Homo sapiens: one gene and its partner. The protein of the gene in region 1 interacts with the protein of each later gene in a pairwise test. Each region holds a gene or a part of one and is shown in the gene's direction. Other genes may lie near its edges.

Region 1 (3,924 bases):
TTCTCAGTGGTTTTCCAATTTATTGGTTTCAGGATACTGTTGCCCTCTTAAAAAATTAGTGAGGACCCCAAGAGCTTTTTTTAATATGAGTTATTTTGATCTTCACTGTATTTGACATTAGAACTGAAAAATTTTTATTTTAAAATGTTAAAAATAATATTTTCTAGGAAAAATAACTTTTCAAAAGAATGAAAGAGTGGCATTTTATGTTTTTGTACATCTGTTTAATGTCTGGCTTAAGAGAAAACAGCTTGATTACCATTTGCTTCTGCATTCAGTCTTTTTGTGTTGTTGTTGTTGTTACTGTTGTTGTTACTGTTGTTTTGAGACAGATTCTCACTCTGTTGCCCAGGCTAGAGTGCAGTGGCACAATCTCTGCTCACTGCAACCACTGTCTCCCAGGTTCAAGCAATTCTTCTGCCTCAGTCTCTACAGTAGCTGGGATTATAGGCGTGTGCCACCATACCTGGCTAATTTTTGTCTTTTTAATAGAGACGGGGTTTTGCCATGTTGGCCAGGCTGGTCTCGAACTCCTGACCTCAGGTGATCTGACCGCCTCGGCCTCCCAGAGTGCTGGGATTACAGGCGTGAGCTACCGTGCCTGGCCGCATTCAGTCTTTTGCAATGTATTGTTTTGTTTAAAATCTATGAAGGGCCTGATGCAGTAGCTTATGCCTGTAATCCCTGCCCTTTGGGAGGCCGAGGCAGGTGGATCACTTGAGCTCAGGAGTTCAAGACCAGCCTGGGTGACAGAGTGAGACTGTCTCAAGAAGAAATTAGCCAGGCGCTGAGGCACGCTCGTGTAATCCCAGCCACTTGGGAGGCTGAGGTGGAAGCCTGAACTCAGGAGGTCAGTGCTGCAGTGAGCTATTTTCATGCCACTGCATTCCATCCTAGGTGACAGAATGAGATCCTCTCTCAAAATAATAAGTATATGAAGAAAACCGAGCCTCACATAAAAAGAATATTTTTAAAGTCTTTTTAGATAATTGTGTATATTCTCTTTTTGATACCATACAATACCAAAACTCTACATAAGTTGTAGTTTCCTAAAGATTAGTTGTAATGTTTAATGTAGGTCTGAAACCAGGTTAATTAACTTGGGTCTTGTATGTATAGTTTTGTAACATGCATTTACCGCTTGTAAATATTGGTTCCCTGAATTATGTCTTCCAAATGTTGACGTTTTATTGAACACTGTCATTAAATCATGCTCATTAATATAAATATCATCTCATCAGAAAAATTACTTAGGCCTTGGTAAACTATCAAGTTCACAGTAGTAGATGTGAATTTTCCAGAATTCTAGTTCCCACTTGAAATCATAACGTTTATCATTGGCGATAAATGCTCTCAGTTTTCCTTGAAGTGACAAGCTCACCTTGTTCATGTTTGAAAACATCTCTATCAAATACCTAAGTCTGAGTTAGCCATATTTGTTCTTTTAAAAAGTGGTGTTCTCTGGGAGGTGAAGCTTGCAGTAAGCCGAGATCGTGCTGCTGCACTCCAGCCTGGGCGACAGAGCGAGACTGTCTCAAAAAAAAAAAAAAAATGTGGGGTTCTATGAAAAAGGAGCTTGGAGCGTGTTTAGCTCACAACTCAGATACACAAATGCTTTTCCTTCAGAAAACCATTGAACTTCAGTTGTAGCCATATTTATGTATATCTTCCATTTTGTCACAGATATTAGAAAGACATGTACTTGAGAGTTAACACAGTATTTATTGTTTTATCAAGGACATTATTAAGTGAAACCATTTGCCTTGTTTGTTTCTGCTGGTGTGTGGTTGTGAGGAATACAGTGACTAATATATGTTGCTTCCTTGATTAGTACTAAGGTGCCATCAATTTTACCCACCTTTGCTTTCCTTTGCTTTTGCAATTAGTACAAATGTCAACACAGTGAAAAGAGCAGATAAATAGTGTTGCTATTATTATGAAAATAGTTTCTACCTCGGAGACTCCGAAAAAGGTCTCAGGAAACCCCAAAGTCCTTGAACCACACTGTGAGAATCTGTTTTTTCTTGTCATATAGAATCTTAACTCTTATGTCAGTTTTTCATATGTGATTCTGTGATGATTACTCCTTAATCTGATAGTATCGAGCTCAGGCTATTTTCTTTTTTTTTTTTTTTTTTTTTTTTTTGGAGACAGCGTTTTACTCTGTTGCCTAGACTGGAGTGTTGTGGTACAATCATGGCTCAATGCAACCTTGACCTCCTGGGCTCAGGTGATCCTCTCACCTCAGCCACCCAAGTAACTGGGACTATAGGTGTATGCTACCATGTGTGGCTAAATTTTACATTTTCTTAGAGACAAGGGCTCACTATATTGTCCAAGATGGTCACAAACTCCTGAGCTCATGTGATCCTCTCACCTTGGCCTCCCAAAGTGTTGGGATTACAGGCATGAGCCACTATGTCTGGCCTAGAGCTATTTTCTATGCTACAAGAAGTTTCCTTTTTCTCCTCTTTAACAATTTCTCAATGGTTTAATCAACACAACATTAATCATTGATTGCTTTCCTATCCTTCTATTGTACTTTACCTTATTTTATTTGTTAATCAGATTTTGTTTCCAAAAAGAGATAATGCTGTTGACACTGGATTTTGATTAATAGATTTAACTATTTTTGGAGTAGTATAGGAAAACTCTAAGGCATTTGTATATTACTACTTTTTGGATTTTGGTTTTAAAACTCCTCGTTTACTTTTGGGAATTGCATTTTTTTTTTTATTGGCTGCTTGAATAACTTAACATCTTTTCACTTTCCTGGATAGATTTATCCAGAACCTGTTTCAGTCCTCATACTAATAATTCGATATACAGATTACATCCTTGCTACCTGTGTCTGGTTTCTGAGCTGAGATTGTGAGGGATATTATGTTTTTCTAATACATTTGAGACCTGGAGATCATGTAACAAGTAGTAAGAGCTTGGACAGTGAGAGTTACCTTTTCTCCAAACGGTGCTATCAAAGAATTTATCCACATGGATTAAGGTTCTGATAATAGTTGTTAATGGTAGTATCTCACATAGCAAGGATATGTGTATGCATTCACGATTTCTTATAGAGAATCTTCTCTGAGAAATGTCTTTGATCCACCAACTTCAAGTTCCTGGAGTGACCTAATTTTGCTGTTTCCTAGTGTGCCTTTAGAAGGGTACGTTGTTGGAGCAATCTAGGTTATCCTGTGGTTTCTTTGCAGAGAGCTCAAGAGTACCATATTATACAAAGCAGCCACTTTTTCTTAATTTTTGTGTAGGTGACAGTGACCCCTAGACTGGAGGTTCCTGGGAGGTAAAGGACCTGTCGTTCTAGTCTCTGCAAGAAAAATATTGCCTAAAGTTATCACAAACATTTACACAATTGGATACCTTAAGGTTATGTTATGGAATTTTACCTTAATGTTTCTGCTTATTGCAGAAAATAAAGTAACAAAGGTAGAAATAAAAGAATATAAAAGATGCTCAATCCCAGAAATAAATATTAATTCTGTAATGCGCATTTTAACATTCTTGATGTTAGGTAATTTTATGGTTTTCAATTTTAGAATTTAGCAAAACTTCCTTGAGAAAGCACTTAAAAATTAAATTTATTGTTTACTGTAATCAACTCATTTTCATCAGGTGATCTCTGCTTTTAATATACATGGTTTAATTGATTATCAGAATAATAGCAGCATATTCTTAGTTTCATAATTAACATACTTATCATTTATTGTATACTTATAGGCATCAGTGATAATATGAGCCTGACATTGTTGAAAGTAGAGGCCAGAAGTAATGAATATAAACCGTATAGTTCATTCATAAATTCAGGATGTATAATTGGTAATAAAGTTATACATTTTTTTTATGGGCCAGGCGTGGTGGCTCATGCCTGTATCCCAGGACTTTGGGAGGCCAGGGTGGGTGGATCAC
Region 2 (3,924 bases), on another chromosome or scaffold:
CCTGCTAGAAATGCAGAACCTCAGGTTCCAGCCCCAGAATCAGATTCTGCATTTTAAGAAGATCTCAGTGCAATTTGTATACACAATAAAGTTTGAGAAGTACTTTTGTAGAAAATTACTTTAACCCTTTAAGGGCCAATAATTACATGATTTTAACTATTTTGGATAGAAACTGTCCCTCAAAATATTTCCACATAAGTGAGTTGTTAACTATATCAACTTCCAAATGAGCAGCTTGGACATAAAGTGCTGTAGAGAAAGGCCTGGAGTGGTCAGGAGAGGTTTCTGAAGGGAGGGTAGCCTTGGCCTACAGGGAAGAAATGTTTGTACTCTGTTCAGAGGGCAGTGAGGAGCCATGGGGCTTGAATAATGAATCCTTAGGGACAGTTGTGTCAGATTATGAAGGACAACATCTCATGCTTTGCAAAAGTGACTGGTCCCCCACTGCCTACAGGGTCAGGTTTAATGAAGGATTTGAAACAGGCTAGTAACGTGACCTGACTTGTATTTAAAAACAAACAAGCAAATAAACAAAAAACCTCTGGATGGGGTGCAGAGAATGGACTGGAAGAGGAGACCAACTAAGAAGCTGATTAAGAAGCTGTTGTAATAGTTCAGGTGAGAAAAAAAAAGTGCCTGAACTAAAGCAGTGGTCACAACTGTAGAGAAAACGTCTGTGAGGAGTTTTATGGAGGAAGACTTGACAGCTTCATAAGAGGTCAGGAAGAAGGAGATAATGATGACATCAACATGGAAACACAGGGGATGTAGAAGGCTGGGGAAAGGGGAAAGAAATGAGTTGTTTAGATTGTTGAGTTTGAAATGTCCACAGATAAAGATGTCCAAAGGGCACTTGAATATATAGTAGAGCTCTAGAGACAGCTCATGGCTGCAGATACAGAAAGGTTTATTTCCATTCTGATAAACTAAAAAAAAAAGTAATTATTACTTTATTTGTAGATACTATAGCCATATGAAGTTGAACATGGCAGAAGAAGAGGACTATATGTCTGATTCCTTCATTAATGTCCAGTAAGTAAATGTGCACACCCAGTGCAATGATATGTATAAGATGTGTAGATTAAGAAATGACATTGATTTTATTTTATTTTATTTTATTTTTTTGAGACAGGGTCTCATTCTGTTAGCAAGGCTGGAGTGCAGTGGCACAATCTTAGCTCACTGCAGCCTCAAACTCTCCAGGCTCAGGAGATCCTCCCATCTTGGCCTCCCGAGTAGTTGGGACTGCAGGCCTGCACCATCATGCCCGGCTAACTCTTCTTTTTTATTATTTGGAGAGACAAGGTCTCACTGTGTTGCCAAGGCTGGTCTCCAACTCCTGGGCTCAGGCGATCCTCCGGCTTTGGCCTCCCAAAGTGCTAGGATTACAGGCATGAACCACCGTGCCCAGCCTGACAGTGATTTTAAATGTGCAGTGGGAAAGTCAGTCTTCTTGCTTTATGGAAATACCTCCTATGTCACCATAGAAAGATACTAGAATCTACTTCCTCCTTTTAATGCTAACCATTTTACTTTTGCCCTTGATCCTTTTTATTGCCTTCTTCCAAGGAAATTTACTCCTTTTCCTTTATTACATCATATTGTCTCTTCTAGCTGCTATACAACTTTGTTCTTTATTATTGCCAACATCCTAGAAACATAGTAAGTCTAAACTTACTATATCTGATTTCTTCAACTTCGTGCTTTCCTTATTTTCCTATGATCTGGCACCAGCCTTCATCATTTCTACTAAAACAGCCATTCTTAGAGGTCACTGATTATGTTCTAATATCATAATAACAAAGATGATCATAGAGGTAGTGCCGAAATATTAACTGTTGTCAGGTGAGTAAGTGACAGAGTTATGAGAAAACTTGGCCAGGCGTGGAAGCTCACGCCTGTAATCCCAGCACTTTGAGAGGCTGAGGCGGGCAGATCACCTGGAGTCAGGAGTTCAAGACCAGCCTGGCCAACATGGCAAAACCCCGTCTCTACTAAAAATACAAAAAATAGCCGGGCATGGTCGTGGGCGCCTGTAATCTCAGTTACTCAGGAGGCTGAGGCAAGAGAATCGGTTGAACCCAGGAGGCGGAGGTTGCAGTGAGCCAAGATTATGCCATTGCATTACAGCCCGGGCAACAAGAGCGAAACTCCGTCTCAAAAAATAAAAAAAAAAAAAAAGAAAAGAAAACTTTATGGACTCATCTAAAATAAACTTTTCCCTTATTCAGAGAAGATATCAGACCAGGATTGCCAATGCTAAGGCAAATCCGAGAAGCCCGTCGAAAAGAAGAAAAGCAACAGGAAGCCAATTTGAAAAACAGGCAGAAGAGTTTAAAAGAAGAAGAACAAGAAAGACGTGACATTGGGTTGAAGAATGCACTAGGCTGTGAAAACAAAGGGTTTGCCTTGCTCCAAAAGATGGGCTATAAAAGTGGTCAGGCACTTGGCAAGAGTGGTAAGTCACATGTGGAAATAAACAGGTATTCCTTACCACCTAATTGTGACTTATGGATAAGGACCAAAGCTGATGCTTTAATCTTTATCTACACAGAAATTATAACAACTTAGGCTTTTTAGTCTATTATGTATTAACAAGCCTTATGGAGAGCTTTTCATCATCCCACATCCATTTTAGATACCACATGTGCCATCAAGAGCTGCTTATCAGCCCAGCTTAGCTGAAGGCACTAACAACCTAGATGGATGTGGCTTACAACAGAAGAAGCAAAGAATGGTGATAAGTGATGGGTTGAGAAGTGCAATGGCTAAATACATTGAAACAACACTGAGGATGATGGCAAGACTTTGCCCTGCTTGCTCTGTACCTGTGGCAGCCATCTGAATGACCGTCCAGTTGGAGAGGCTCAATTCTCACCTCTCTTTTTAGGAAGTGAAACTGCTTATTAAGCTAGAGAGGCTATATATTTATAGTAACCTCTGTAAACCGTTTTTCTTTCCTTTATCGTAATTGCTTTGCTTTCACTTAAGGCTGTCACCGTCTTGCACCAATAATATCAGTGTTGTTCCTTCTTAAAACTCCACCTTCAGGTGGCATAGGAGGCTGTGAATCAGCCTTTTTGATGAGTAGGTATTTGAAGACAAGGTAGATAATTGATTATATATAGAATATATATAGATGTTCAGATTTCAATTTTGAATATCATTGAAACAGGAGGGCATATGCATAGAGCATTGTAAAGTTGCATACTTATACTGTTCTGTAGTTTGAGGAAAATTTTCTAAAATAGTTTGTATTCATTCTCTTTAAGGGGGTGGTATTGTTGAACCAATTCCTCTCAATATCAAAACAGGTACGTAATTATTTTGGAGCATATTTGCCAATAATAATAACTTACGCTTAGGTCTACCACATATATTTGCTCAATAAATACTTTTTTTTAAATGATAATACTGTTACAGTTCAGTAAAATTTTGTTAAATTTCTAAACCTCTTCAACCAGAAAAGAAATAAGTTTTAGTGAGTATAAAATAAAATTTAAACCACACGAATATGGGAAGAACAAATCATTACAACCATTGAATGTGCAATACTGTTTTTGTCCATTGAAATGTCTTAAAACTGTTTTGCTCTGGGAGGCCGATGCAGAAGGATTGCTTAAAGCCAAGAGTTGGCCGGGCGTGGTGGCTCACACCTGTAATCCCAGCACTTTGGGTGGCCGAGGCAGGCAGATCACCTGAGGTTGGGAGTTCAAGACCAGCCTGACCAACATGGAGAAACCCCATCTCTACTAAAAATACAGAATTAGCCGGGCATGGTGGTGCATGCCTGTAATCCCAGCTACTTGGGAGGCTGAGGCAGGAGAATCGCTTGAACCCAGGAGGCAGAGATTGCAGTGAGCTAAGATTGCGCCATTGCACTCCAGCCTGGGCAACAAGAGTGAAATTCCATCTCAAGGAAAA

What was found.
Region 2: the proteins of DEK (region 1) and GPATCH11 interact in binary tests that used the Homo sapiens proteins (3 or more experiments, as listed by UniProt).

What each region holds. Positions count from the first base shown.
Region 1 is NC_000006.12:18,250,732-18,254,655, reverse strand, and holds part of DEK (protein DEK), read left to right. Parts: intron 1-3,924. UniProt on the Homo sapiens protein: Involved in chromatin organization.
Region 2 is NC_000002.12:37,087,409-37,091,332, forward strand, and holds part of GPATCH11 (G patch domain-containing protein 11), read left to right. Parts: intron 1-960; 5' UTR 961-973; coding exon 974-1,032; intron 1,033-2,231; coding exon 2,232-2,458; intron 2,459-3,272; coding exon 3,273-3,314; coding exon of another isoform or gene 3,315-3,318; intron 3,319-3,924.